Linked DNA regions of Homo sapiens. The protein of the gene in region 5 purifies or fractionates together with the protein of the main gene of each other region. This does not show direct contact. Each region holds a gene or a part of one and is shown on either strand. Other genes may lie near its edges. The genes, in order: KLHL7, TACC3, GTSE1, SETD1B, BOD1L1, ADNP and ANKRD13B.

The links.
Region 1: the proteins of BOD1L1 (region 5) and KLHL7 purify together in Homo sapiens (affinity purification with mass spectrometry; one large-scale study listed by BioGRID and IntAct). This does not show direct contact.
Region 2: the proteins of BOD1L1 (region 5) and TACC3 purify together in Homo sapiens (affinity purification with mass spectrometry; one large-scale study listed by BioGRID and IntAct). This does not show direct contact.
Region 3: the proteins of BOD1L1 (region 5) and GTSE1 purify together in Homo sapiens (affinity purification with mass spectrometry; one large-scale study listed by BioGRID and IntAct). This does not show direct contact.
Region 4: the proteins of BOD1L1 (region 5) and SETD1B purify together in Homo sapiens (affinity purification with mass spectrometry, with the first as the bait; one large-scale study listed by BioGRID). This does not show direct contact.
Region 6: the proteins of BOD1L1 (region 5) and ADNP fractionate together in Homo sapiens (co-fractionation; one large-scale study listed by BioGRID). This does not show direct contact.
Region 7: the proteins of BOD1L1 (region 5) and ANKRD13B purify together in Homo sapiens (affinity purification with mass spectrometry; one large-scale study listed by BioGRID and IntAct). This does not show direct contact.

What each region holds. Positions count from the first base shown.
Region 1 is NC_000007.14:23,108,375-23,112,653, reverse strand, and holds part of KLHL7 (kelch-like protein 7), read right to left. Parts: intron 1-4,279. UniProt on the Homo sapiens protein: Substrate-specific adapter of a BCR (BTB-CUL3-RBX1) E3 ubiquitin ligase complex. The BCR(KLHL7) complex acts by mediating ubiquitination and subsequent degradation of substrate proteins. Probably mediates 'Lys-48'-linked ubiquitination.
Region 2 is NC_000004.12:1,734,432-1,738,710, reverse strand, and holds part of TACC3 (transforming acidic coiled-coil-containing protein 3), read right to left. Parts: intron 3,439-4,279; coding exon 3,386-3,438; intron 2,981-3,385; coding exon 2,877-2,980; intron 1,471-2,876; coding exon 1,383-1,470; intron 1,114-1,382; coding exon 1,009-1,113; coding exon of another isoform or gene 997-1,008; intron 364-996; coding exon of another isoform or gene 319-363; exon of another isoform or gene 1-318. UniProt on the Homo sapiens protein: Plays a role in the microtubule-dependent coupling of the nucleus and the centrosome. Involved in the processes that regulate centrosome-mediated interkinetic nuclear migration (INM) of neural progenitors.
Region 3 is NC_000022.11:46,317,201-46,321,479, reverse strand, and holds part of GTSE1 (G2 and S phase-expressed protein 1), read right to left. Parts: exon of another isoform or gene 3,617-4,279; intron 1-3,616. UniProt on the Homo sapiens protein: May be involved in p53-induced cell cycle arrest in G2/M phase by interfering with microtubule rearrangements that are required to enter mitosis. Overexpression delays G2/M phase progression.
Region 4 is NC_000012.12:121,830,583-121,833,935, reverse strand, and holds the end of SETD1B (histone-lysine N-methyltransferase SETD1B), read right to left. Parts: 3' UTR 1,280-3,353; downstream 1-1,279. UniProt on the Homo sapiens protein: Histone methyltransferase that catalyzes methyl group transfer from S-adenosyl-L-methionine to the epsilon-amino group of 'Lys-4' of histone H3 (H3K4) via a non-processive mechanism.
Region 5 is NC_000004.12:13,606,633-13,610,911, reverse strand, and holds part of BOD1L1 (biorientation of chromosomes in cell division protein 1-like 1), read left to right. Parts: intron 1-1,505; coding exon 1,506-1,617; intron 1,618-2,243; coding exon 2,244-2,382; intron 2,383-3,722; coding exon 3,723-3,795; intron 3,796-4,279. UniProt on the Homo sapiens protein: Component of the fork protection machinery required to protect stalled/damaged replication forks from uncontrolled DNA2-dependent resection.
Region 6 is NC_000020.11:50,899,967-50,904,245, forward strand, and holds part of ADNP (activity-dependent neuroprotector homeobox protein), read right to left. Parts: intron 4,036-4,279; coding exon of another isoform or gene 4,031-4,035; coding exon 3,923-4,030; intron 2,144-3,922; coding exon 2,051-2,143; intron 1-2,050.
Region 7 is NC_000017.11:29,591,406-29,596,334, reverse strand, and holds the start of ANKRD13B (ankyrin repeat domain-containing protein 13B), read right to left. Parts: upstream 3,204-4,929; 5' UTR 3,140-3,203; coding exon of another isoform or gene 2,714-3,139; coding exon 2,600-2,713; intron 2,453-2,599; exon of another isoform or gene 2,141-2,452; intron 2,116-2,140; exon of another isoform or gene 1,807-2,115; coding exon of another isoform or gene 1,717-1,806; intron 1-1,716. UniProt on the Homo sapiens protein: Ubiquitin-binding protein that specifically recognizes and binds 'Lys-63'-linked ubiquitin. Does not bind 'Lys-48'-linked ubiquitin.

The DNA.
Region 1 (4,279 bases), on a different chromosome or scaffold from region 5:
ACCAGCTTCAAAAGTTGCAGTCCTCCTGTGAATACAGTGCTTTAGACCATTTGGCCATCCTGACTTGCTGGGAAGGAGAAACAATTTCTTCCCAATTTTCGAAACTCTCATTTTTCTCCTATTCTTCTGGTGATTCCTTTGTTATCTCCTCCATAGGCCCATTTTCTATCCTTTATTCTGGACTCTGGACTCTTGACTCTTCACAGCTTCAATGAAGAAGTTATCTTCTATATGCAGATAATTCACAAATATATACATCTAACCCACAACTTTCCAGACCTGTCAATTTGTCATATATACTTCAGTGTCACAATGATATCACAAATTAAACACATCTAAAACACAAATTATAATCCTTTCCCCAATGCTTTGATCCTTTTCCAATACCTCCTTTCTCAGTGAATAGTGTCATCATCCATTTAGTTATGCATTCCAGAACCCTAGAGATCATAAGTGACACCTTATGCTGAATCCCTCAACATCCAATCATGTACCAGCATCACAATACAAATAGCTAACACTTACTGAGATGTTACTTGTTATCAGGTCGTATTTTAAGTTATCTTAATTTGGTTACCTAATTTAGTTATCACAACCACATATGGCAGTTATCATCACCAAGTCCTGTTGATTTTATTATCTTTTTAATCTATCACTTTTTCTTCATTGATGTTGCTTATGGCTGCCACTGTCATCACCTCAGTCCAAAGGACCATCATGTCTCACTGGACCACTACAGCTTCCTATTTGGTCTGCCAGCAAGCACTCTGAAAACTCTTTAATTCATTTACCACAAAGCAGTAAGTCTTTTTTTTTTTTTTTTTTTTTTTTTTGAGACGGAGTCTCACTCTGTCTCCAGGCTGGAGTGCAATGGTGCAATCTTGGCTCACCACAACCTCTGCCTCCCGGGTTCAACCAATTCTCCTGCCTCAGTCTTCTGAGTAGCTTGGACTACAGGCACGTGCGACTATGCCTGGCTAATTTTTTGTATTTTTAGTAAAGATGGAGTTTCACCATGTTAGCCAGACTGGTCTCAAACTCCTGACCTCAGGTGATCCACCTGTCTCAGCCTCCCAAAGTGCTGGGATTACATGTGTGAGCCATTGTGCCAGGCCAAGTCATCTTTTTTAAAGAAGAAAACATACCATCTCTACAAACATGCATGCACATGCACACAAACATGCATACACAGATTTTAGAATAAGGGCAAATCACCTAACTTGACTTATGAAGCTATGCATGGGCAGGTCTCTAGCTACTTCGCCAGTTTCATCTAGAACCATCGTCCGCCTTATGTTCTGTGCTCCAATTACACTGACCTTTAATCAGTCTCGAACTTGCCATTCTATAATAAAGTAGGTCTCCAACTCAGAGCCTCTGAATATGTTGTTCCCTCTACTTGAGTCACTCTTCCCTTTTCTCTTTACCTAGTTAACACCTACTCTTATTTCAGCTCTCAATGACCATTTCCTTAGAGAAAACTTCCTGATGGTCAAATTACCCACCCATATGCCCTCGTTGTACCATGTTATTCTCCTGTGTAATACCTACCACTGTTGCAATATTACATTTATTTGTGTGATTACTTGACTAATGTCTTGCTTTTCTACTAGCCTATAAACCACAAGAGGATTGGGACTGTCAGGGTTTGCTTATCATTGCAACCCCAGAATCTAGCAAAATGTTTAGCATACAGTGGGTTGTCAATAAGTATTCATTTCAATGAATGAACTTGGAAGCCAAATTGAACTAGAGTAATAAATAAATAGTAAGTAAGAAAATGTAGTGAACCGCATGTTCTCACTCATAGGTGGGACTTGAACAATGAGAACACACGGACACAGGAAGGGGAACATCACACTTTGGGGACTGTTGTGGGGTGGGGGGAGGGGGGAGGGATAGCATTAGGAGATATACCTAATACTAAATGACGAGTTAATGGGTGCAGCACACCAATATGGCACATGTATACATATGTAACAAACCTGCACATTGTGCACATGTACCCTAAAACTTAAAGTATAATAATAATAAAATTAAAAAAAAAACAAAAGAAAATGTAGTGAATTTACTCAGCTTTTCATCTTAATGGGGGGAGAGAAGTATTTAGAGGGGTATGTTGAGATTAAGAATGGGTTTGCTGGTTGTTTGGTTCAAAAGCTGGAGAGGTTAAAACAAGCTTAAGTGCTAATAGCAAGAATCCAGCAAAGAAGAAAAGTTAAAGATGCTCAACAAAGATGGAATAACCAACAGTATAATACTTCTGAGAAGCCCAGCATCCAGGAAGCCAAAGCCTAGGTAGAAGTACTGGCCTTAGAAAAAGCAGCAGCATCTCCATTGTAGCAGGATAAGAAGAGAAAAGGGAAAGTGTCAAAATAGGTTTATAGATCTGGTGGTAGAAAGTGAAAAGGTAGACAGTTCTAGACTAATGACTTCTATTTATCTATGGTGTCAAAAGAAGGTGATCTGCTGAAAGTGAGGATCTAGAGAAAGGACTCAGATTGGAGGAAAATAGTAAAACAAAAAGATTGCTCACGGGCACTGATAGTCTAGTGGAAATTAGTGGCCAAGCACTTACTTGGCAGAAGTTGCCCAGTGAGATATTTTCCAGCTGTGCTTGGAGCCTTGCACAAAGAAGGTAATCAGTCATCAATACTCAAGTTTGCCAGATGGACATGAAAAAGGGACAGAGGGTCAAGAAAACTGGGACACTGGAGAGACAGTGGAGTGACAATAGCTTCTAAGCTGGACAGACAGAAAAAGAAAACAGAAAACAGTAAAGTACAGGAAAAAGAATAAGAAGGTCTGGATGACTGGAATTGTCAATGAAAGTTAAGAGAATTAAATGAGACAAAGCATGTAAAACACTCTGCAGAGTGGCTGGAACAGTTATAAGTGCTCAAGAAGTCTTATTAATATCAAGGGTTTAACACTGAAGGTTTAGATTATTCACAAGAGAACCTAAAGATAATGACATGTAGTAATTTACAGTCAGACAGATGAGAATACAGAAGCAAAGTCATTTTAGCCGGAAGGTGAGCCCAGTTAACTGCCCAGTATCTAATTGTGAAATCAGCTTTGTAGTTCTCTCACATAACTCTCAATAAGGACTTTAACATAAGCTTTCAAGTTCCAGTTATGCTTTAATTCATTTAATGTGGAGAAACTATAAACTATGGTGGTACTCAGGAAGGTCTTAAAACATCTTCCTCCAATGTTAAGAGACTCCTGGACTTCATTAACACAAAAGAAGAGTATGGCAACAGCAATGTGCATGTGCAATAGTGACTGTGACCCAGACCTGCCTTGTAAAGCCTCTATTTTACATATCAGGTAATAACATTAATCTAAGCAAAAAGTTAAAGAAATAAATGAAAAGGTACTCAATCCAATTAAATAAGATGCTCCTATACACCCAGTTAGAATGGCTAAAGTGATAAGACTGACAACATCAAGTGATGGCAGGGATGCGGAGCAAAAACCTCTCTCACACACAACTGGCAGAAGCGTAACATGGTACAATCACTTTGGAAAACTACACGACGATATCTTTTAAAGCTGAAGGTGGTATAGCTTATGACTCAAAAATTCCTGTTTGGTATTTCCCAACACAAATATTAATACATACATATGCATACCAAAAGGCATGTACAAAGTGTACAAAAATGTTCAAAGTAGTACTAGTCTTAATAGTTCCAAACTAGAAATAACCCAAATGTTCATAATGATAGAATGGATAAATTGTGCTATATTCATTCAATGGGATACTATATACCACAAGGATGAAGTAGCGCTACACACAGCACAGATGAATCTCACAAACAATGTTGGCTTTAAGAAAACAAAACACAAGAGTTTATGCCATATGATTACATTTATATAAGTTCAAACACAGGAAAAACCCACTTTTTGCCGATGTGCTGCAGACTTTCATGAATGCACCACACACCAAAGACAGAACAAAGAGCTCCTCTTAATAACAGGGGTGCATAGTGCCCTTAGAAGATGGCATGGCATGGTATTTATCAATGGTTGCTTCTGCTCTAACTTCGATGGTTACAGAGTTAGAATAGTTGTTACTACTGTGGGGTTGGTGACTGAGAAGGGCATAAGGGGGGACCTCTGGTGTACTGGTCATGTTCTCGTCTTGTTGGTGGGATGTGCACTTTGTAATAATTGAGCTATACATTTATGATTTGTGCCCTCTTATATGTATCCCATACTTCACTGGAGAGTTTACTTAGAAACAAAAGGCTAGAAATGACAAAAACAATGTAGG
Region 2 (4,279 bases), about 12 Mb from region 5:
GCTACCTGTGTCAGGAATAAGAACCCCTTCCCCTCCCTTGTTCAGGTGTGCTCTTGCCATTGCTCCATCTGCGAGGGGCACCCTTTCTGCAGAAAGTAAAAACTGCCTTGCTGAGAAAATTAATGTTCGAGCACTATTTCTTTGTGGCACCAGAGAACAAGCATTGTGCATTTCTAACATAAGTTACATGCAGGGGCCACCTGCCCCCGGAGCCCAGGCCTGCAGAGGAGGGGGCCAGCCACACTGTGGTCCCCAGGCCTGCTATTGGGTTACTCACACGGGCTCTGACACAGGGAAGGAGGTTGTTGGGGTACGGGGTCAGGGCCACATCACAGGCCTCTGCGGAGATGACACCTGGGGCCACTGTGAACAACACTGGTGTGGATGTTGGGGCTTGAACCCAGCCCTGCCAGCCGGCCTCCGGAACCACCCTGTCTGCACCTCCCTGGGGACCATCTGGCGACGGTAGCTCACAGTGGTGCCTGCAGACACCCAGCCCCTTTGTGTGCCTACAGCTCTCTTAGGGACAATTTAGGCCCGGAGTTAGAACAGGCTGAAGCCTGGCATGTACAGTGAGGATGGAGGGAGACAAGGCACGGGACCCTCAGATGTGGGGTGGGTGAAGATGGAGCTTCCTAAGCTGCCAGGAGATGCGTCTGGACTCGTGGGAGGGCGGGAGGAAAGGGGCGACACTCGGGCTCACGGCAGCAAGAACCACACTCACTGCTGCAAGGCCACCAGAGGCCAACGCCATGCCCAGGCCGGAGAGTCCCGGGGAGGCTGCTGGTGGGCAGCTGACTGCGGGGACACTGGGTGGAAGCCTGGACCCTCAGCGACCTGGGCAGTAGTGACAGGCCAGGGGCCGGCAGCTCTCTGCAATTCCACCCCAACCAGCAGGGGCAGGGATGGCAGGGATGGCGGGTCAGGCTGTTGGACCCCTGCCCACTGTTGGCCAAGCCCCAGAGCGGCCTGCAGGTTCTGTGGAATAGCTACTACCTGCGTCCTTACCACTGCATCCAGGTCCTTCTGGCTGTACTGGAGCAGGTCCACTATAGGTCCGGTGGACAGGGGTGGGCCCCCAGGCGCGGGAACACCTGGGGGTGGGCCTGGCACCTGCGGGAGATGGGGATGAAACAGGAACCCATTTCGCCCTTGCCTCTTACCTCTGACCTAGTGTGAGGGAGGAAAGGCCCACACAGGCCAAGAGCCTCAGACAGTGCATGAGGGACCCGAGACAGTGCGGCGAGGGAACAGCACAGCGGCCCCATGCCCCCAACAAAACCAAAGGCTCAGACCCCCAGGAATAGAAAATATAGGCCCTTAAAACAACTCGTTCCCTCAGACCACACACAAGACAGTTCAAGAGGGACTCAAGGACTTACAGGAATGTCCAGTGCTCCCAAGAAATCGAACTCCACAAGCTTGGCTTCCCGCGGACGTCCTGAGGGAGTCTCATTTGCACCGTGCATGCTGCCACCAAGCAGAGGCAGCCTCAGTCACTAGGCCCTCCCAGTGTTGAGTAGGACACAGAGGACCATGTGGACAAGCTAACCGGGCTCTTTGCTTTTTAGTTTAAAACCACTCAAGTCAGGGTAGTGGTAGAAAACGCAGACCCGCATCCAGCATGCCCGGCCTCTCTGCTGCTCCGTGCCCCCCTCCCTCACCTGCCCATCCCACGTGGCTGCTTGTCCTTCCGGGAGAGCACGGTGACGCTTCATTACCCACTGCAGGCTGAGCGGAGCCAGTGCTGCCTCATCAGGGGGCTGTTCACAGCTCAGAGCCTTTTTTTTTTTCTTTTTCCGAGACAGGGTCTCACTCTGTCACCCAGATTGGAGTGCAGTGGCATGATCTCGGCTCCCTGCAACCCCTGCCTCCCAGGCTCACCCGATTCTCCTGCTTCAGCAACCCAAGTAGCTGGGATTACAGGCGCCTGCCGCCTCACCCGGCTAATTTTTGTTATTTTTAGTAGAGATGGGGGTTCACTATGTTGGCCAGGCTGGTCTCAAACTCCTGACCTCAGGCGATCCACCCGCCTCAGCCTCCCAAAGGGCTGGGATTCCAGGTGTGAGCCACTGCGCCCGGCCATGTGTTAGGATTTGAAGGCCACACAGCCTCTGTCACACTACTCAGTTCTGGCCTTGTAGTGTGAAAGTTGCCACAATTTGCAAAGGAACGGGCATGGCTCTGTGACGATAAAACTTTACACAAACAGGCAGTGGCCAAGTCTGGCCCACAGGTGATAGTTTGCTGACCTCTATTTTTTGGTTTTTTTTTTTTTTTTTTTTTTTGAGATGGAGTCTCACTCTGTTGCCCAGGCTGGAGTGCAGTGGCGCAATCTCAGCTCACTGCAACCTCCGCCTCCTGGGTTCAAGCAATTCTCCTGCCTCGGCTTCCCAAGTAGCTGAGACTACAGGTGCATGCCGTCACACCCGGCTAATTTTTGTATTTTAGTAGAGACGGGGTTTCAACATGTTGCCCAGGCTGGTGGCAAACTCCTGAGCTGAGGCTATCCATCCACCTCGGCCTCCCAAAGTGCTGGGATTACAGGCGTAAGCCACCGCGCCTGGCCTGCCGACCTCTGTTTTAGAGGAAGTACTCTTAAAAGATTTAAGTTTAGATCTTTAATATACCTAGAACGGTGGCTGTAACCAGCAAGGCAGCAGCCCTGTGGCTGGAGGGTAGGCTGCCGTTGCTCCTGCCAGACACACAAGGGCTGCTCTGGCCTTGCTGCCCAGCCCACCCCTAGCACAGCTCCTTTCCAGTTCTGATCATCTCCCCCCGGTCTAGAAGCCTCTGTGCAGACAGCACACCTAGGAACAGCCTCCAGTCTTCCCACACTCAAGGCTTCATGCATGAGGGAGGGCCGGCGCACATACCTGCTGGTCTCGGTGGCCACGGGCACTGGTCTACCAGGACTGTCCCTCAGGAGGGGGTCGAACTTGAGGTATAAGGACTGCTTCCTCAAGGCCGACTCCTTAAACTGGGGACAAGAGGGCAAGTGATCAGGTCTGACTGCCATCCCCTAACACACACGGGGGCTAAGGGCCAGGGAGGTCACCTGCACACTCCCACCCCCGGTCACCCGCACACTCCCACCCCCGGTCACCCACAACCCTGCCCGAGACACCACCATTCCCAGCAGCACAGCGTGTCAGAGTTTCATCCTGGGCTAGGCACCAGGTAGAGAGCCCTAGAGCCCTGCCACAGGACACCACTTAGAGGAGGTGCTGCAGAAGGGGCCCTGGATTCACAGCCCGCCACAATGCCTGGGCCTGTGTGCAGCTGGGGGGACGTGGGCACCAAGGGACGCTCCGGGGGCAAGACCTGCCGTGGCTGCTCTCGGACACCCTGTGGGTGAGGCTTCGCGGAATTGCCTGGTACCTACCGAGGAAGTTCCAAACTGCTCCAGGTAATCCACCTCCGCGCCCGTGCCTAGAACTGAGAGGAGTGAATCATGCCGCCGCCATCGCCCCTCACCAGGGCCCTAAGGGCGGCGGGCTGGTGTCTCCCTCAGCACTCAGTGAGGCAGGATCATTCCAGCCAGCAGTATTTCCTCCCTTGGAGGTGTGGATGTTCGGGGCCTGACTGCTGTCTGCGGCAGGCGCCTCCTGGGCACCGCAGGGTGCTGAGCGGCATCCCCAGCCTCTACCCACTCCCTGCCAGCAGCACCTCCAGGTGTGACAACCACAAACATCTGGGGAAAGGCGGGGGCAAAACTGCTCTGGTTGAGAACTATTAGTCTTTAAAATTACCCTAGACAAGTCTTTTAATTTTTGATAATATAACTTTTGATTAAAACTAAGGGTGGAGGCTGAGGCGAGTGGATCACTTGAGCCCAGGAGTTCAACAGGGCAAAACCTTGTCTGTACAAAAAATACAAAAATTAGCTAGGCGCGGTGCTGCACTCCTATTACAGGGAGGCTGAGGCAGGAGAACTCCTTGAGCCTGGGAGGTGGAGGCTGCACTGAGCTGAGATTATGCCACTGCACTCCAACCTGGGCAGCGGAGGGAAAACTGTTGCAAAAAAAAAGAAAAGGTGCCTCATACCACATACAAAGATTAACTCAGAATGGATCAACACCCTAACTGTGAGAGTTAAAACTATCCTACTTTTTGTTTTGGTAGAGGAGGAGTCTTGCTACGTTGCCAGGGCTGGTCTTGAACTCCTGACTTCAAGTGATCCTCCGGTCTCGGCCTCTAAAACTATAAAACTCTTAAACTGTGGCTGGGCGCAGTAGCTCACATCTGTAATCCCAGCACTTTGGGAGGCCAAGGCAGG
Region 3 (4,279 bases), on a different chromosome or scaffold from region 5:
CACAGCTGAGTCAAACATGCTCCCACCCTCTCTCCACCTCCGTTTTCAGTTTGTTTGTTTCTTTTCTTTCTTACAAGAAACAAGGTCTTGCTCTGTCACCCAGGCTGGAGTGCAGTGGCTTGATCACTGCTCACTGCAGCCTTGAACTCCTGGGTTCAAGTAATCTTCCTGCCTCAGTCTCCCAAGTAGCTGGGACTACAGGTGCCCAGCACCATGCCCAGCTAAATGTTTTTGTAGAATCGGGGTCTCACTGTGTCGCCCAGGCTGGTGTTTGTTTTCTTGTATGGAGTGGGGTGGTCTGTGACTAAGTCATCCCATAATCCCTGTCTTTTGGGAACATTCTTGGGTCACTGACCCCGCACCATTCACAGAGGTCTCTGTGAGACCCAAGTTGGTCACTCCTGGCGGGTGTGGAGGCAAGCCCACCTCTCTCTCCCTCGCCGCCTCCCTCTCCCTTGCCGCCTCCCGTGTTGGCTCCCTCTCTCCCGAGACCCCTTCCTCTCGGTTGTCCTCTCCCTCAGCTGGGTGGAGCGCACTCTTCAGCAGCTTCCATGGTGGCACGGGAAGGTCATTCTTATGAAACAGAACACGAACAAGCCATCTCCTGACACCCTCACGACTGCCCTAGGGCTGCCTGAGCACGCACGCCTCCCAGGCCCACATCAGCTCTTCCCTAAACCTGGACGGCGCGTCTCCACTGCAGCTCCCAGTACCGGGGAGGCAAAGCCCACAGCCAGAATTCCAAGTCTCAATCCTCTGGGTGACCCGGCAGCATGGACTCATAGTAAATAGCAACATTTGTAACTGGACTGTTTTACAAAGAATGCTGCTTGCCTCGAGTATTTTGAGAAAGTGCACATATGAAAGCCTCCACTACAGGGCACCGTTCATGTGGTCCCACGCTGTGAGTGCCCTCAGCCCTCACCTCTCCTCCACGGTGACAGCTGGTGTCACAGCCAATGAGCAACACCACCAGTGCTCTCAGCCAAAAAGTGCACACCACCACGTGCCTCCCAGAGCTGTGTGTTCCCAACAGCGTGGCTGCTCCCCTGGGGCCTCTCTTCCGGCCAGTGCTGAGTTTGTGGGACCAGTTTTGACCCTGATGAATGACCAAAGGCGTGCAAGAGACAGTCCTGTTCCCAGCATTGTGGAGAGAGGAGGAACCGCCTGCCGAAGGTGAAATGCACATCTGAGAGGTGCGTAAGGAGACCGCAGGGACACGCTCTGGGAAACAGGGCAAAGCCAACAGGGATTTGGGATTAGCAGAAGTCCTGTGGCATCAAGCAGCCCGACAGCCAGGAGACCAGCCAACACTTGTGCCAACGTGGTCAGGAGAGACATGGCAGACGCATGTCCTGGCTCCAGGCATTCAGGCAGAAGGGAAGCAAACACTACTGAACACACCTCCACATGACCTGGGCCGTAGGGTGTCCCTGCAGAACCCACCCAATCACAGCTCGCATTTCTTTTCTTTCTTTCTTTCTTTTTTTTTTTTTTGAGACAGTCTCGTTCTGTCGCCCAGGCTGGAGTGCAGTGACACCATCTCGGCTCACTACAACCTCTGCCTCCTGGCTCAAGTGATTCTCCTGCCTCAGCTTCCCAAGTAGCTGGGATTACAGGCATGCGCCACCATGCCTGGCTAATTTTTCTATTTTTAGTAGAGACAGGGTTTCACCATGTTGACCAGGCTGCTCTCGAACTCCTGACCTCAGGTGATCTGCTCACCTCGGCCTCCCAAAGTGCTAGGATTACAGGAGTTAGCCACCGTGCCCAGCTCACAGCTCCCATCTCTACAAACTCAGCTCTCTGCTGTTGAAACCTACACTGAGGTCTCCAGCTGTGGCTTCTCCTCTGAGCTCTCAGCCTGCTCCACCCCTCAGCTGCAGCCTAAGTGGCCTCTCACCCTCACTACTTCCAAAATGGGGCCGTGGACTCTGCCCGCTGCCTCTTCCAGCCCTCCTGTCACATGAGTGGCAGCACCCAGGTTCCGCCAGAACCTCAGGGACACTCGAGTCCCTCTCTGCACTGCCACATGAGCCCTAAGCTACCAGAACGTCAGGCAGACCGCAGCGCTCCAGCCTCCTTCCCCAGCACTAGCTTCCTCCCCAACACAGTGAGGGCCAGGTCCGCATTACCCTCCCCACCACTCTTCGGCCCAGAGACTCTGCTCTTCCCTCTGTGGAGGGACCTTCTGAAGGTCAAGTCGCTCTGCTCTGATCTCTCCTATGCACGTCCTCCTGCACTGACGGTACTCCAGGGTCCGCTCTGGTCACGCGGCGCTCTGGGAGCCGGCCTCGGGCTGCCCCTCCATCTTCATCTCTTCTTACCCTGCCCCTCGGTCACTGACTGGCTGAGGTTGCTAGTTTTTGTTCAACAGCAACTTTCCTCTTCTCAGTAAGAAATTTCAGCTGTGTGCGGAATAAAGACAACGTGTCCTAGCATCCTGTGCAGGGAAGCGTCGTACTCAATGGGACACAAACGGAGTCACAGGGACAACTTGCAGTGAGGGTCCTTGAAAGGTGGGGATTTGCTCTTCTTCACCTAGAAGAAGGCTTCCTGCCGGGAGGTATGAGGGCCAGAGCCGGTGCAGCCACACTAGACCATGAGGATGAGAAGCTCATCACGGCAGCACAGGATGGAGTAAGCCTGGGTCCCTGACACCAAGGAGTACTGACCAGCTGTCGCACGTCTACGCAGAATCCCGACCGCAGCGGCTGCACTCCCACCCTCCGGCCCCCATGCTGCTCCCAGAGCACGTCCCACGCCTTCCTGCCCCAGGACCTCTGCACTCCTGCCGTTGCCTCTGCCTGGAGTGCTCCCCCTTGCACTTTCCTACCGGCTGCCTCAGTCTCCTGGTTCAGATCTCAGTCCCGTGTCACCTCCTGACCATCTTTGCCAAAGAACCACCCGATGCAAATTCCTCCCCAAACATGCCAGCTCCAGGACACCATCTTCCCTTAGTCCCTTTGTTGTGCTAGGATCTGCAGGCCTGCTCATCTGATAACATTTCGTATCTTTTCCTATTAAACAGAAATTCTGTGAGAGTAGGTCTGTCTTATCATGATGTCCCTTGTCCCCCAAAGCATTCCAGCACAGAGAAGACACTCAGCAGAACAGCTTGTTCCTACAGCAGGACTCAGAATGCAGTTTCTGGGAGTTGCAGGCTGCCTGTGCTGGCCGGCACTGCCAGAACTTAAAATCCTCAAGCACCCAGAGGGCAGATCTGCCTGACAGAGGAGGCCAGGACGCTCCTCTCACCTTAAGTCAGCTCTGAGAACTTTCTGCATTGCACACAATTGTTCAAGAAATTCATGAAAACTTTACAAACACCCACCCACTAATGGCCAGACACCTGCTGGGGCCAGTGGCCTCACTGACTGGAGAAGGCAGTGGCTGGAGCTCAGGAGGCTGAGGTGGCTGCAATCTGAGGGCCAGAAACTAGAGAGGAGGGGGCTACTCCGACAGAACGAGCTCTAGGAACCCAAGGGAATCTCGAGTCTCTGGCTGAGCACCAGGCAGTGCACAGGTGCAGGGCAGGAGTCCTCAAGGTCAAGAGAAGAGCAACTACCAGGGAGCAACGAGCGGAGCTCACAGGGCCGAGAAACCGCCGTCTTACCAGGGAGCAACGAGCGGAGCTCACAGGGCCGAGAAGGTGTCATCTTGCAGCAGCAGGAGTGCAGGGGTCTCGCGGGCCTTGCGGGACACACGGGTGTGCAGCAGAGGCCTTGGGAAGGACGCCGGTGGCGGGAGGCGGAAAGGCTATGCTAGACCCACCACTTCAAAGCATAAAAAGCCTCGGAAGGATGATCTGCACCTTAACTGCCTGCCAAGCCCAACCCAACTCCTCAGAGAAAGACAACAAAATCCAGACATTCAAAAGTGTACACCTGACAATATCCAACAACCAAGAAAAACTTGTGAAAAATGTAGAGGCAGGAAAATGAGGCCAAAACCCGGAAACAAAATTAGTCAGTCGAAACAGACCCCAAAATGATGGGGAAGATGGTATGAGAAGAATCGTAGACCCTAAAACCATTATCAATTTGCTCACGAGGATGTAAAAGAAAACCCAAGTACCATGAGAAGAAATAAGGGGAAACTATTATGTTAGAAACAAAGTTAACTGGATGGGCTTCACAGCTGTTAGGCACTGCAGAAGAAATGATATCTGACAACAGAAACTACCCAAACTGTAGCTCAAGGAAAAAGGCTGGGCCGGGCACGGTGGCTCACACCTATAATCCCAGCAGTTTGAGAGGCCGAGATGGGTGGGTCACTT
Region 4 (3,353 bases), on a different chromosome or scaffold from region 5:
GGGTTCAAGCGATTCTCCCACCTCAGCCTCCCAAGTATCTGGGATTACAGGCGTGCACCACCACACTCGGCTAATTTTTTTGTATTTTTAATAGAGATGGGGTTTTACCATGTTGGCTAGGCTAGCTCGAACTCCTGACCTCAGGTGATCTGCCCTCCTAGGCCTCCCAAAGTGCTGGGATCACAGGCGTGAGCCACCGTGCCGGCCGTGTGCATTTTAAATAATGATTACTAATAGGTATTTTTCCTCCTAAAGGTTGCAGTGATTTTTGGCTTCCCCTAATGACACACGAGAGTACCCCAGCCTCCTGCTCCCTCAAATTGGGTTTCCTCCACCTTTTAATATTTGCCAACCTGACAGGGGGAAACGGCATCCTGGGATAATTCACATTTCTCCAGTAGGAAGTGACGTACAGCGTCTTTTCAGGCATATTGCTTTTTGCTAAGGTTTTACGTCTTCTTGGAGACATTTACCGTGGACGCCAACTATAAGCCCTTTATCACCCGTCTACTGGGTCAAGCAGAGCTGAGACTGACTGGGGCACAGCATCTCTGAAATGCCATGAATACAGGATAGATTTAATTCTTCTCAACTTCTACTATTTTATCAGCCCTTTTTCCTCCCTCAAATGCAGACCAGGGGGGCATCTCCTTAAGTGTTAAACATTTCTGAGGAACCACCTACGTTCTTCTAGTGATAGTAAAAGGATACCTGATCTTATTTCCTTCATTGCAGACCTCATGAGTCAGAAACCTGAGGTTTTAAGAAAAAAATCTAGAAATCACACTTAAAAGCTGTGGAAGGTCTAGTGGTGACTATAATTTGGCCCATTTCACAAAACCCACCTACAAGTTCAGGCTGGGCACGGTGGCTCACATCTGTAATCCCACTACTTTGGGAGGCTGAGGTGGGAGGATTGCTTGAGCCCAGGAGTTTGAAACCAGCCTGGGCAACATAGGGAGACCCCGTCTCTACAGAAAAATTTCTTAAAAATTAGCTGGGCATGGTGGTGTGCTCCTGTAGTCCCAGCTACTCAGGAGGCTGAGGTGGGAGGATCACTTGAGCCCAGGAAGTCAAGGCTGCAGTGAGCCATGATTGCACCACTGCACTCCAGCCTGAGGTGACAGAGTGAGACCCTGTCTCAAAAACAAACAAAAAAACCCCTGCTGATCTGAGTGTCTGAGTGGACCACTCCACCCTCCACAGAAGCAGGATGTGCTCCCAACAGAAAGAAAGAATAAAGAGGAGAGGGAGAGAGGAGAGCAAGAGAGACGGCGTATCTGTAAGAAAAGTCAGTATATTTATGGTTTGCTTTATAAAAGTTACTATAATACAATGGTACATAGTATTGAATTCACAAAAATATGAACAAATATTTACATCAAGACACACAACGGAAACACTTCTCTTCAAAACAAGTTACATATGGATGATGGAGTCTACCCGCACAAACATCCCTAAAACTCATTGGTTCTCATCTTTGCAGGGGGAGGGAGAGAAAGCAAAAAATAGCAGAAACCCCCAACTCTTGAAAAGCAGAGATTTGTTCAATGAAAAATGAGGGAGTTGAAAGAAAAATGACTCGACACATATCTTGATTATTGCAAACCACTCTGGGGCTGGGGCTCCTGGGGAGAGGGAGGTCTAGTCCCCTTAGTGAAGGCCAGCCGAGGTTAACACTGGGCACGATGGCTGGGAGCAAGGTGAGGCCAGGGGGAGGGGTGAGGCAAGGGTCCCTTCCCTGGTCTTCTCGAACACCCCCACTTCTTTTATGGGAAGGGGACAGAATGGAGACAGCCCTTTGGAGGCTGTACATGTAACTTGAATCAGCCGTCTCTACAAGCTACGCATTTCCTCATGTGAAAAATAAATTATTTCCTCAGTTGCACAATTAGGCAGAAAACCGCAAACGGAAGAGAAGTTCGCCGCTGTGCCCAGGTACCCCATCTGTGTCTTGTTGCCACCAATTTCCTTGATCTTGAAACCGGCGGGCACAGTCTCAAATAGAGAGGGCCTGGGGGAAAGGAATAAAAAAAAAACAACAAAAAACACACAACAAAACCACCAACAACAAAAAAGAGAAAAATAACAATTCTTTGTACAGAATTTACATGATAACAAGCTTGACACAAGCTGAGATACCAGAGGCTCCGGCCGCCTGCGTCCGCAGGGTGGGAGCAGCTCCCTCATGGAGCGCGCTCATCTTGATGAGGACTCCGGGTCACAACAGTCACTTTCCAGAAATTATTTACACGCCTCCTCTGCTTTCTGGGGTACGGGGGGACTTGCTTTTGTCTTTTTTTTCCTTTTTTTTTGGAAGTACAAAGAAATGAGCAAAAAATGTCTTCCCGCATGTTTCTACAAGAAACAATGTTCCCAAGAGAAAGTCCTTTGCGGCAGCCTCTATATACAGAAGTTGGTTCTGAACTTCAAAAACCTTTTTCCCCTTCCTTTTGATTTTATACACGCACAAGAAAAAAAAAAGCCATGGGAATAAATTCTGAAGAGATGGGAAGGGGGTCAAAAGGGAAAAAAAAACCGTCAAGGCTTAGATTTGTGTTTTTAAATCTTTTCCAAGATTTTCCTTTCTCTGGGAGAAGTAATCTGCTCCCTCCGAAAATAAATATGCTCTGGCCTTCTTAGGTTGAGGGGCTGCCGGCAGGGGGATGTGGGGTGTGGGTTGGGGGTGAGTGGGTGAAGCTTATAAGCCAAAAAATGCCACACGCAGACGGTCTGACAACCCGTAATGGCGGGACTGGGGGACCCGCCTGCCCTTGGGAGCCCTGTCCCACCCAGGGCGAAGGCAAGGGCAGAAGAGAGTGGCTGCCCGCGTTCTCAGCGCCCCTCACCTGCACTGGGGCCTCCGAGAGGCTCCCGCGTTGCTGGCATCCGAATGAGAAAGTAAACATTGAACCCAAGGTTTAGGGGGTGCTGGGGTGTGAGGTGGCAGGGAAAGCCCAGAGCGGAGACCCCTGCCTGGGACAGCTTAGCTCCATCAGGGTCCACCGGGTCAGTGGTGCCCCAGGCCTCTGGGGAAGGAACAGGCTGCAGCTCGGGTGGGGAAAGGTGTGGGGTCTCCTCACTGTGCCCACGGGCAGTGAGGGGCGCTTTCAGGGCGTAGTGTTCTGAGGTCAAGGCCGTGGGGGCCTCCATCCTTCCCACAGCACCTGGCCCTGCGTCCAGGTCCGGGTGGCTTCCAGGACACGGGCCACGCACAGCCACACTGAGGCCTCTGCAGACCCCCGCGGGGCCCCTCTCTGATTCCACCTTCACATTTCAACGGTTAAATGTCTTTTCTCACAACGAGGAAAAAAATAGAGAAGACAAAACAACGTAGCAGCATTCACAGGAAG
Region 5 (4,279 bases):
TTTTAACCTACTACATCAGGTTAACAAACTTAAATAGTCTATCTGCAAGGTACTGATGTGCATATGAAGCAGAGACATACAGGATTTGCCTTCAGGAAACTTGTCATTTAACTAGGTAGAGTAGATGTAAACATGTGACAGAGATGTTTGTGTCATCATTACTAATACAAGTGAATATCCCTTATCCGAAATGGGTGGGACCAGAGGTGTTTCAAATTTTGGAATTTTTCACAATTTGGAATATTCGCATATACATAGTGACAAATCTTAGGGATGGAATGCAAGTCTAAACATGAAATTCCTTTGTGTTTCTTATATGTATATGCACATAGCCTGAAGAGTATTCGATACAATGTTTTTCATAATTTGGTGCATGAAACAAAGTTTTGACTGCATTTTGACTGCCACCTGTCACATGAAGTCAGGTGTGGAACTTTCCACTTGTGACAGCATGTCAGTGCTCAAAGAGTTAAGATTTTCAGATGAGGGATGCTCAACCTGTAGTAGTGAAACTGGTAACAACCTGAGTGCTTCACAGTATGGAAATGTTTAAATCAAGTGTAGATCCAGTCCTGCAAAAATACAGTATGCAGCTATTAACATACTATTGATATGGAAATGCTATTTACCTATTTCTTGGATTCAAAAATATTTCCAATTATAAAATGTACCACTGAATTAATAACAGCTTTTTAAAGAAAATTACTACCTTATTGTTACATATGTATATTGGTTTTAAGATAGCTTACAATTTCAGAAACATTAAAATATGAAAAGTTGTAAAATATGAAAAGTTCAGAATCAGGAAATATTGTCACATAGGAAAATGATTTGAAGAAACTACCCCAAAATGCTAGTAGTGATTAGCCTTCCCTTCAGGCTTATCTTTTGAAAACATTACTTGGTTAGAAGTTATGCACCTGCTTAGGATTTTTGGCACTCTGAGCCAGAAAGAGATAGTAGGAATAGCACAATGACTGTGAATTCTTTCTGCTGTAAAAGACCTGCAAGTCCTGAGTCCCTTGGGTCCCAAGCATATAACCAGCAAGTCATATATGTTGTAGAACTAGCCTATCACTTGAATTTTTATTTCAACTGTTTTCTATAAGAACAGTTGAAAAGTTATAAACACCTACCTATATATACTTGATGTTCATAGATATTTTCACAGCTATCATTTTAATTGAAACAACCAGCTTATTTAATCACTTTTCCCCAAAATTATACCTTTCCCTTTCTTTAATGGCATTCTTAAAGAGTAATGGCAAATTTTCACATCTGTTTCTTCTATTCTGGTAGCTTCTAGATTGAAACATACACATACATATGTATGTATACACACAGAGATAAATGTGTGTATATATATGTAGTGTATGTGCATTTTTTCAGAGCCCGTTAATTTGTAAGAACATCTGAAGGGTAAACTAAAACTTTAAAAAAAATACAATTTTTCAGTGTGTTTTTGCCTTTGCCTAATAATCTGTTAGGGTATTTTGTGGTTTTAGGCCAAAGAAAAAGAAGAGAGGCTTTTAAGAAGGCAAATCAATAGAGAAAAACTTGAAGAAAAACGAAAACAGAAAGCAGAAAAGACAAAGTCTTCAAAAACCAAGGGTCAAGGTATAGATGTCAACTTTTAATATTTTAAACTATCTCATATATTTCATTATTTTCTGGGTACTCTTATATTACTTATGAGACATGAATATAAAATAAAATGATCTAGTCTCAAATGTGGAAGATTTCCTTACGTTTTAATCTCATGTGTTTCATCATTTTTCTTTTTTATTAAATTGCTAAATCTAAATTAAACATTTTACCAGAAACCAGCTTATGCAACTCATTTGTTAGCAGTATATTTTTCTGTAATGATTGAATCACTGGAAAGTAGATTGTTAACACATGAGTTATCAACCCTTGCTGGTGATTAATGAAATTAATCTATGCTTATGTTAACTAAAATGTCAAACATTTCCCTGTAATATTGTGTTGAACAAAATTGTATTCCCTCTGGGCACTAATCCTATGTAATATATGAAATCACACATACACACACTTATGTGATCATTTGAAATAAGAGAGATAAGACTTCTTCATCCAAAATATTATATCTATTCCAGCACAACTTAAGAATATTAAAGCCATTTTGGCTTTAACAATGATTAGAAAAATCTTAATGAAAAATTAATATTACATTGTTTGTAAAACTTTTCTGAAATACGTTTTATTGATTGCTTCTTTTCTAGGCAGGAGTAGTGTGGACTTAGAAGAATCATCAACAAAGAGTTTGGAACCTAAAGCCGCCAGAATTAAAGAAGTCCTTAAAGAACGGAAAGTTTTAGAAAAAAAAGTAGCCTTAAGCAAAAAGAGAAAAAAAGATTCAAGGTACATATTTTATCTGGTCATGTTTCCCTTATAACACTCCCCTGGGTGCTTTCAGAAGAGAGGAATTGAAGTGACAGTAAAGAGTTGTACTTTGGTTGTGTATGTTACTGCATGTTTATGAAGGACCTTAGGGTTTCATATTTAGTATCAAAATGTTAATATCTATAACATTTCTAAGTAGTGTATCCTAATCTTTTTGGGCGTCCCAGATCTTTTTGATAATTTGGTGAGAGCTTTAGACCCTCTCCCCTGAAAAATGTACATGCATAAGCTAACAATTATCCCTAGACTTTAAGAGTTTATGAATCCTCTAGAAGTTCCCTGGAGGTATTCCTCTTGTTGGTGTTCAGTAACCACTTATTTTCAATTATTATTTCCAGTCTTTCCATGCCGTTATTTTTACCAGTATTCCATGATTCTCCCCCAACCCAGAATCTGGGCCAGATTCCTTATTAACCCTGCATTATCATCGTTAACTTTTTAAGAATTAGAAAGCTAAAGAGACTCTTGAGGGTAGCTATGAAGTCATGTGAGCCATGGGCTGCAATTTTGCTATTCCATCAAGTTGCATTTATGTAAATTTATCACAGACTTCAGGATAACTGATTTGATAATTTGCAGAACTTGGTAAGAGTAGTAAGCTCTCAAATTTCTTACTATTATTACCTCTCATCCTTATTGATCTGAATAAATAAGACTGCCCTCTTTACTCAAAAGATAGTAATTTTGAAGTGTAATTATAGCCCATAAAGCATTCATCTTTAAGCAACAAATTAGGAATTTTTGTTTCAGCTGTACTTTCCTTTAGCACCAAGAACAGTTAATGCTATGTTTGGGATTGTGCTCTCCTTTGTTGACCAATAATTGATAGGATTTAAATTGAAATGTAACAAGTCTGCATTTGTCGATCAAGTGTATAAATTATAGTAAACAGCTGGGCGCGGTGGCTCACGCCTTTAATCCCAGCACTTCGGGAGGCAGAGGCGGGTGGAACACATGAGGTCAGGAGTTTGAGACCAGCCTGACCAACATGGTGAAACCCTGTCTCTACTAAAAATACAAAATTAGCCAGGCATTGTGGCGTATGCCTGTAATCCCAGCTACTTGGGAGGCTGAGGCAGGAGAATTACTTGAACTCAGGAGCGGAGATTGCAGTAAGCCAAGATTGCGTGATTGCACTCCAGCCTGGGCAACAAGAGCAAGACTCCACCTCAAAAAATAATAATAATAAAATAAGATAAATAAAAATTATAGTAAAGGAAAGATTTTTATTGTTTTCAACCTTCCTGAAAAATTTTCGTATTTGATTCATGCTTTATATTTGACTCTTTCCCCCTTAGGAATGTTGAAGAGAACTCCAAAAAGAAACAGCAATATGAAGAAGATTCCAAAGAAACCCTTAAAACAAGTGAGGTATGCCTTAATAAAACCTCATTTCAAATGCTGTTTTGTTAGATATAGGCTGTTTATTCCTTTGGAGTAAAACTTAGAATGTAATTTGACTTTTTTCAAGTCAAATAAAAAGTCAACTTACATTCAGCATTTTTGAAACCCCATTTTGTTATGTCCCAAATTGCCCATTTTGTTGAGTTGATTTATATATTTGTCGTTTATCTAGGTAATAGCTACTCTTCTTCTCTTTTCCCATTTCTTATAATTGCAATAACAAAAATGCCAGTAATGACAAAAAAAGAAAAAGGGAGGCTAAAATTAAAATCTAAAATCCCTCCACTATAACAAATTATCCTTTTTATTCCCTCTCATTCCTTATCCACGGGTCCACATAATTTTTTAGAGTACAAGTAATCTGGCAAACTGTTTTTAACATTTTACTCATTTCATGTTACCTTCTAGGCATCCTAATTATTTAATGATTGTCTAGTGTTACATATAATGT
Region 6 (4,279 bases), on a different chromosome or scaffold from region 5:
TGTTTGTGTTTTAAGCTAAGTGTTATTACAAAAGATTCAGAAGTTAAGAATTTTAAAGTTTTACTTTTTATGTAGCCTAAGTGTGTTTATAAAGTCTACAGTGATGTACAATAATGTCCCTTCATATTCAGTCACCACTCAGAGCAACTTCCAGTCCCGCAAGTGCCCAATATAGGTGTACCAATTTTTCTTTTATATTGCATTTTTACTGTACCTTTTCTATGCTTCACTATGTTTAGAAACACAAATACTTACCATTGTGTTAATCACTCTTATAGTATTCAGTATATAGTATTCTCTTATAGTAACATGCCATACAAGTTTGTAGCCTAGGAGCAACAGGCCATACCATATAGCGTAGGGGTAATAGGAGGCTATACCACCTAGGTCTGTGTAAGTACCCTTTATGATGTTTGTACAACAATGACATCACCTAACAGGGCATTTCTCAGAATGCATCCCATCATTAAGCAATGCACGACGGTATTATACGCTGTAAATAACTGTATGTGCTATACTTCTATGACTGGCAGCACAGGTGTGTTTACATTAGTATCACTACAAACATGAATCATATGTTGCGCTATGATGTCATAAGGTAGCAAGTTTTTCAGCTCAATTATATTCTTATGGGACCACTGTCGTAGATGTAGTTCATCACTGACCAAAATGTCGTTATGTGGTGAATGACTGCGGTAAAATTCAGGGCCCACGATGTTTTAGTGCAATTAGACAATTACAAGAGATAAAGCTATATCTTTTATTCCTTTCCTCATTATGGATAAATTTTCATAGAAAAAAGGCAAATCTCCATTTTTTCCTCTGATTAAAGTACAGTGTAGTATCAGATTCAGCGCTGATCAAAAGAAAGACTGATTTGAAAAGTTGGCTTTCTTCTATAAGCCTTGCTGTTCCTTCTCAACCAAGAACACTTCAAAAGAGCTAATGAAGTAATAGCTGCTTTGATTCAAATCAAGAAGTTAAATAAAAATGTCCTACAGACTGTGAGGAGGGTGAGGTATTTAAAAGCCAATAATACATTATAGAATATACTGATATCAAAGAGCAACTTTCAGAATTATGATTGTTAACACCTATGCAGTCAGTCCTTTGATGAAGGCAGGTGAACTGACATGCTTGGTAAGAGATTATCTTTTCTCCCTAGAAACCTACTTGTTTCAGATACTGGTTTGAACCATGATGAAATACTCTGCTTCTCCTCAAAGCTCAACTCTTCTTTAGTATTCAGCTATGAGGCTTTCAGATTGATAAAACTGAATTAAATAAATGATGTGTCCCACTGGAAAGCATTCTCATTCTAAGACTGCTGGTTAGTAACTTTGCCTGGGGTATTTAAAAAAAAAAAAAAAAAAAAAAAAAAGTCAAATATCTGAGTACTAATTTCCTGAAAAGTATGTTCCGATAGATGAACAGATCATTAATGCAGAATGAGAATCACTCCTAAAATAGGTAATGGTAAAAATTAAATTGACAATTACCTCTCTCTATGCAGAAGGAAATATCACCTATATGACATCATCATCATCTATTGATACTTGCTGGCAGTGCTAATATTGTTTTTAATGCCAATTTGTAAGAAGTTTTATCTCTCTGTCACTGACATCCTACAGAGTCACTTCCCCAGGCCTCCCATAGAAGTTGGGTGCCATCAACATAGGGAAATAAGAAAAGCTTAAATGTAAGGAAGGGTCTTGTCTTTTTCTGTGCAGAAAAAACAAGAATGGCAACACAGATGCAGAAAAATAGAGCCAGAGCACTTTTAGGGGAAATGGTGGGATACAGCAGGCTTCGTAACTTTTAAGTAACAAAATTTTGTTTCTTCTTACACCTCAAGTTTTAGTCCAATGACAAAAAAGGACAAAAAGTTTTTCTTAGTCTTCCCACTGGTCAGGAAAATATGAAATGCAATTTTGACACTTTCGATGTTTGGCACTTGCCCGCAATCACTGCACCGCTATAAAAGGCCTAGAGCTGAAAAGGGAGTATACCAAGCATGCTGCCATCTGAGGAAGTCTCCTGTGCCACTTACCTGGTTTTTCGTAAGTGATGGGTCCCACAGTCCTACATCCTCCCATGTAGTGTTTTTCAAATAAAAGTCATTAGGTTCAAATTGTTTAAAATCCTAGAAAACAGTGAAATAAGTTTACAAAAACATAGTGGTATAAACGCTAACCCAATCTTACATGTAAATCTCACCTCTTAACTAAGATGGGGAGAGGCACAGGAAAACCAACGTCAACAAGGACTTAAACTAGGAGTGATAAGGCTCTTAAATATAAAAAGGCATATGGAAGTTGCAGTCTACATTTTATATCAACCAACCACTTTCCTGATGGTCAGTCAGGTTTCCAAGGAAATTGCTGGAAGTTCTAATTAAGTAAAAAATTCAGCCACACACTAATATCAAAGCACTTTTCATTAGAGTACTGTACTCTAACTCGTCAGTTACAGTACTGGAATGGTGTCTAAAATAGCAATGTTTGCTTACAGCACTGCAAATATGATTTCTGGTTCTGTGCAAAAAAAAGATTTTTTTCGAGGGGAGGGGGCAGGAGATCAGATCAGGAAGAAAACTCAAATTTCAAACCCAAAAAGGCAGAAAGAAAGCTATTCAAAGAAAGTTAAGCAGTATGATGTTAAATTTATACTCTCATGTAAAAATTTAATGGTCCACTTCCCTCCAGACTAGGAAGATTAAAAGTCTTAGGGTAAAATCCCACTTGTTCCTAAAAAGTTCACAGTTCAAGGTGGAAAATGAAGTCTACACATAAATAATCATAGGAGGAACAAATCAAATGCATGACAGAAATGTACTGTGATGTTGGTATTAATTATTTCTATGAAGATGACCCCACAGAGTGCAAAGTGAATGGACTGTTTCATTTGGGCAGATCTACCTGAACTCTGGGGTTGGAGAAGGGCTACTTCCACACTTGGAACAACGTGACTAGAGAAGTCAACTTTTGAGCAGCTTCTGTTTCCATGCCATACTCTTCAAGTATTATTAGTGGAACTCAAATTAAGAAAACCTGTTGTATGAATGAATTTGCTTTTTTACTTCCAATTCCATTCAAACACTTACTGATCACCTATTACGTGCAAAACACTGTGCTAGGTGCTGGGGCTAAATGGATAAACAAGGTAGCTATGTTCCCTAGCCACCTAGAACTTAAAGGTTAGTGGGGGAAACAGCTTCAAACATTTCTTTTCAATCAGGGGCTCTGACCAACAAACCATAAGACCTGGAACAGTGAGATGTTGAAAAGGAGACCACTGCATGGCTATCCCACAGAGCTGTTATAAAGCTCATAGAATAAAACAGCTTGAAAAACAGTTCATAAAGCCCAAACTGTTATACAAGGGGGAAAGTAATAGTCTATGATGGGTCAAAAGGGGCAACAAATGCTCAAATCCTAAGGAAAGAGACAACAAGCACCCACACAAGCACGCCTCAACAATTAGAAGAAGGTCAACCAGAACATTCAGGCGTATCAGAATGAGAACAGGCTTTGAGTCCCACAGACACTGCCACTTTCTCAGCTGCAAGGCTGGGCCTATTTATTTGTTCTTCATCTGTGAAGTGGAGATAAGAACTGCTACACTGCCTCCCGCCTCCATGGTTGTTCTAAGGATTAAATGTATAGACAACTTTACGGCACCTAGTTCAACGCCTGACATGCTTAAGTCCTCAATGGTAGCCTTCTGCTTCAGGATGCAAAAATGAAAAAGCCCATTTTAGGGAGAAAGGCACAAGTTAATGCTATTGAGAATGTTTTCGTGAAGCTACTGCTGTGGCTGAAATTCAGAATCACATCTAAGATTTAGCCATCTTGGCCACTGACACAAAGTAATGGATCAGAAGCTGAGTCATGTTAAAATTTAAAAATGACATGCTACTTACTTCTATATGTTCTTTACAGTATTCCAACCCAATGTCACTAAGTATTTTTTTCACAGTTTTCCGGGCTTTTCTTAAACTGCCAAGATTGTTGACAGGAAGTTGGAACATAGTTTCTATTGGAAAAAAAAATTTAAGTCAAAGTCAAAACACGTACAACTTGTAATATTTACTAATTCCACTGATGATAGGATCATAAAACCTACCCATCTGACAAAAAAGGTGCATAGATATCCTCATCTAGTGTGTACACACACAGACACACACCTGCTTTCATGTGCATATGGCTTGATATATCCATCCATCCATCCTTCCTTCCTTTTCTTAAGACAGAGTCTTACTCTGTCGCGCAGGCTGGAG
Region 7 (4,929 bases), on a different chromosome or scaffold from region 5:
TGCTGGGTGCCCCTTCCCTTCACCAGGCACCTCCTATCTGCCCATCACTCCCTGCTTCCAGCCTCCAGCAGAGCAATTTGGGGCTGAGCAAAGCCCATTAACCTGCTCTGAAGGTGGCCATGCTGGCCCCCTCCTCAGCCAGCTGCACTGCCAAGCCTGCCCACGGAGGGCCTCTGCGGGGCTTTCTTGGAGTGAAGAAGAGGCAGCTATGCCAAGCCAAGACCAGGGAAACCTGGCTCCTGAGTGCTTGAGGAAAGCCGAGCTGTTTCTGTGGCGGCTGGTACCAGGGGGACTAGAGGCCAGGGACCCCTGGCTGGGATGCCAGGGTTCCACAGTGCTTTTCTCATGATGTTAGGTGGCTGTCCCCAGGTCCCCCTTGCAGAAAACAGAGCCTGGTGCCCTGGGGAGTAGGCAGTGTACATCTGGATACAAGCCTCACTCTGGGCCAGTCCTCGAGAGGGGAGACAGCTAGGGAACTCTCCCACCTACACGGAGTGGCATTCCTCTTTTTGGCACGCCTGAGGGAAGGAGAGGACTGGCCTGGCTCCTCTGTGGTTGAACAAGGGTTAACCTCCACCAGTGCCCTATATTCCCCCTGGCCTGGATCCAGGACAGGCAGTGTCCATTTCAAGGAGACATTAACTCACTGGGGCAGGGGTAGGGGTGAATCTGGGACCTTGTTTCTGAGGCAGCCAGAGGGGTGGGAGAGAGAAACACATGAGCAGCCCCCAACACCTCTACCTGCAGCGGCTCCGGTGCCCCCCACCCCAACCTTACCCCAGCAAGATGGCCACCCACTTCAGGATTATCAGCAGAGAGGCCTGCTGGAGAAGTCTTTTCTCCCAGGGCATTCTGCCTCTCTCCAGTCTCTGCAGTAAAAGGACCACCCACCCTCAGGCAAGGGAGTGGGACTGAGGCATTCTGGAGATTCAGCCTTCTGCCTAGTGATCCTTGGACCCCTGGGAAGTTCTTCCCACATGAGGCTTGTCTTCTTTTGCTTTCAGGGAAGGAAAGCAGAGAAGAGCCAGCAGAGGCTGGCTGGCCATGTCTTAGCGCTTTGCACATCACCCTGGAATTTCCTGTTCACACTTGCTTCACCAGAACAGAGACTCCTTGAGGGCAGGGGTTGATGCCCTGTTTGTTCATCTGTTTCCTGGGGGCACTGTGACCCACTCTCTTTAACAGGCTTCTCGTGGCTGCAGAGCACTGCCTTTATGATAGATAAACAAAGACAGGGTCTGAGGAGTTCAGTCTGAGGAGAAACTCGGAGAGTGCTGGCATAGGCACAGGTAACAGGAAGTGGCCACCCAGACCGGCCCAGAGGCCTGCGGGCACAGGTCACTCGCATATTTACAGGGACTGCCATGCAGAGCTGGATGCCATGCAGGCCTGGGGGCTGGCTCAGCGTGGGACTTCAGAGACACATCCTGACCCCCAGCCTGCTCAGTCCGATGGCCTGCCCTCCACCTCCATGCTTCCCTTGGCGATTGCACAGCTCCTCAGACTGAACTTCTCATGACTCAATAAGCAGCCCTCAGAAGGTAAATTCCCACAGCGGGCAACTGCGCTAACCACCCCCAGCCCATGGCCCCAAGGTCTCAGACCCAGTCCAAAACTGGGGTTCTCAGCCTGCAGCAAGCCATGGGACCCGGGCCCAGCTCTGGCTCTTGCAGCCCACCCTGGAGGCGGGGGGTCATCTCTGCCATGAGTGCCTACCTGTGGCCTGGGTGCCAAGGGCAGAAGTGGCAATCTGTGACCTGTGCCTGCCTTTGTTCTGAAGCATGGCCAGAAGACATCCTGAAGCATGGCCAGAAGACATCCCCCCTTCCCCTGTTTTCTGGAGACCACTGCCCAGCCCAAAGCTGGTGACCCACGTGGCCTTACTGACCAGCAGAAACCAGGGAGCCCACCTGGTGCGCAGAACCTCAAGTCCTTCCAGCAGCCAGGGCCCCTCAGCTTCCTCTGCGCCTAGAAACCAGGCCCCAGCACCAGAGGGCAGGAGAGCGCTTTTCAGCACCTGGACAAGGCCCTTGGGGCCTCCCAAGAGGGTCTTTCTCCACTCCCTGTTCCTGAGCTGGGGCTGGGCTCTGAGAGATCCAAGGATCTGCCCAGTTTGAGAGCTAAAAGAGAAAGCGCTCACCGTTGGGGAGAGGGCGCTGGGTGGGGCTGGGGTGCCTGGGAGTGTGACACAGCCTCTTCCCCATTCTTGACCTATGGCCCCCTCCCCACGCAAGCCTTTCCCACCTCCGCACCCTCACTCGGGAGGTGTCGCCGCTCAACTGGCTGGGGCGGACTCTCCCACCACATGGAACACCGACACAGCCCGCAGCCCCTCCCTGCAGCCCTCACTGCCCCGGCGGAGGAGGGGCACAGAGGCCTCTACTCTCATCTAGGTGAGTCCGAAACACGTGTGGTCCCGCCCGTCCCGGCCGGAGGGGATCACCCTTTCCCGGTCAACAAGCACAAAAGCCGCGGCCGCAAACAAAGACGCGCCGCAAACTCGCCAGGGAGGCGGGACAGCCCGCGCCGCACCCCCTCCCCAGGCCGGACGGGCGTGCCCGGCCGCGGGGTCCCCGCGGCGCCCCGAAGGCGCTCCTACCTGGCCCGCGCGGACCTCCTTCTCCAGCTCGCGGTGGCGGTTGTGCCACACGAGGTAGTGCAGCGGATACTTGCCCTCGGGCCCCTTCCTGGCGGAGGCGTTGGCGGGGATCATCGCCCGCTCCTCATGCCGGGGCCGCGGCGCCCGGCCGGGGAGGAGGGACGGCGCCGGAGCCGGGGCCCGGGGCCGCGGGGCGGGGGGCCGGCGCTGCCTGCTCGCGGGGCTGCGGCTCGGGCATGTGCGAGCGGCGGCGGGCGGGGGCGGCGCGCCCGGCGCGGTGCGGGCGGCGCGGGCGACGGGCGTCCTCGCGAGGCGGCGGCGGCGGGCGGCGCGGAGAGGCCCCCACCCGCCCTGGGAGGGAGCGGGCACTCGGCGGCGCTGCGCGGACTCGCGCTCGCCTCCCACACCCCCGCACACAAAGACGCCGCTCGGCGGAGGGAGCAGGCGCCCGCAGCGGGCGCGGGGGCGCACGGGACGCGGGCCCCGGGGACGCCGCCGCAGGGACGCGCGCCCGCAGCCCCCGGGTCCCCACAGCTGCATAGCCCGGCCCTCAGCCCGAGCGGCCGGCGCGGGATACGGGGATGTGGGGATGATGGGGAGAGAGGAAGGGGACCAGGCGCCCCGGGTAGAGCTTGTCAGCTCAGCCCCGCGGCATCATGGGGTTTGTAGTCCGCCTCGTGAAACTGGGGGTGGCAGGTGGCCGAAGAGGGTCTGCACTGTCCCCGGATCTCGTGGGAGAGTGGGCGGGGAGTCAGGCCTGGCCCAGACGCGGGCGGGGCCCTGACGCCAGGTGGGCTGGGACGCACCTCCCCCGCTGGCATTTTGCCTTTTGCTGGGGAAGTGGGGGGGCACGGGCCTAGGTCGAGCGTTTGGGAGACGGGGTGGAGGTGTGGTCTTCAGAATTGAGCTTGGGTCCCAGGGGCCATGAAGAAGGATCCGGATTCCCAGAAGAGAGCGTCTGATTGGGAACTCCTGAGAAAGGTGTGGGGCATCAGTACCAAGGGTCATTGGAGCAGCCAGGGGTCTGGCCCCTGGAACATTTCTGAGGAGTCTTCCCTGCCCTGTTAGAAAATTAAACTCCATCTTCCACACATGTCATTGGAAACAGAATGTCCAGTAACGCGGGAAAGATGGTCCCTTTCCCCCCGCACACTGTCCCCAGCAAGAACCAGAGTGAGGTTGGACAGAAAAAGCAGCAGGTGGCAGCTCCGTTCCTCCACCCAGCTGGCCCTTCAGGAAGGGAAGTGACTGATTCCAGAGACTGTCTCCTTCCTGAATGACCCCAGGGTGAAGAGGTACTTCCAGAATGGTCCCTGCAGAGGGTGTGGTAAAAGTTGAATTGGCCTCTCAAGCGCCAATTGCAAGGCCTGGAAGGACCAAGAGGCTTGGACCAGTCCCTGGAGGGAGGGGACTGTGATGTCAGAGAGACCAGAGTTCGAATAGCTCCAACTGCCTGACCTTAAAAGAGCAAACTGCTTAATTTTTCCGACTTTCTCGGTCCACTCCCCTTCAAAATGAGAATCTAGATACTACCTCCTGGGGTGAGCTAAGGATAATGACTGCCCTGGAAACAGCGCCTCCCTCCCCCAACCAGGCGGGCCGAGACAGGTGGCGGGACCAGGCACGGTGCCTTCTTGAGCCCACCTCAGAACAAGGCAGGAATAAGGGATTCCACACCGGCCCTACTTAAAACAACAATCCAAGAAGTGTTTGTGTGGGAGGTGCCAGCAAAAGCTTGCAAACTCTCTCAGGTTTCTTTGTGTGGTCTTCCCTCCTTCCTCCTCCACACCCTGTGGTGCCAGGCCCCAGCGGGAAGAGATGAGGGAGGAGCGGGCTGCCTCGCCCCTTTCTCCCGCCTGGGAGGAGCCAGCTGGCGTCTCCGGGGGCCCGGGACCGCTGCCCGCCTGCACCACCAGGGGTCAGCAGAGTGTCGTGGCTGCAGCCAGTGCAGGGGAGGGGGCTGGCGCGGTTGAGGGGCATCTAGGAGTGGCCGGGAGCATGCCTGTGCATTTCCTTATTAAATTGTTTTTCGAACCTTGTGTGTGATTCCACTGTAGCAGTCCTGCTTCCTGGGGTGGTGACATCTCCACGGGGGAATCCAGAAACCCTTTTATCTCCAGTCCCAGGCCCAGAAGTTTGGCTGTGACGGGGCTGGGGGAAACAAAGTTTGGACGATGTGTCCGCGCCAGGGCCACTCCCAGGTAGTCTCTGAGCCAACCAGGAGATGGGGAGTGGGGTGGAGGGGTAAGCAGAGTGAATCATCCTTCTTCCCCAGCAAAGCCCAGGAGTCCGAGGACAGGGGGAGTTCAGGATGGATTGTGGGGAGTTGT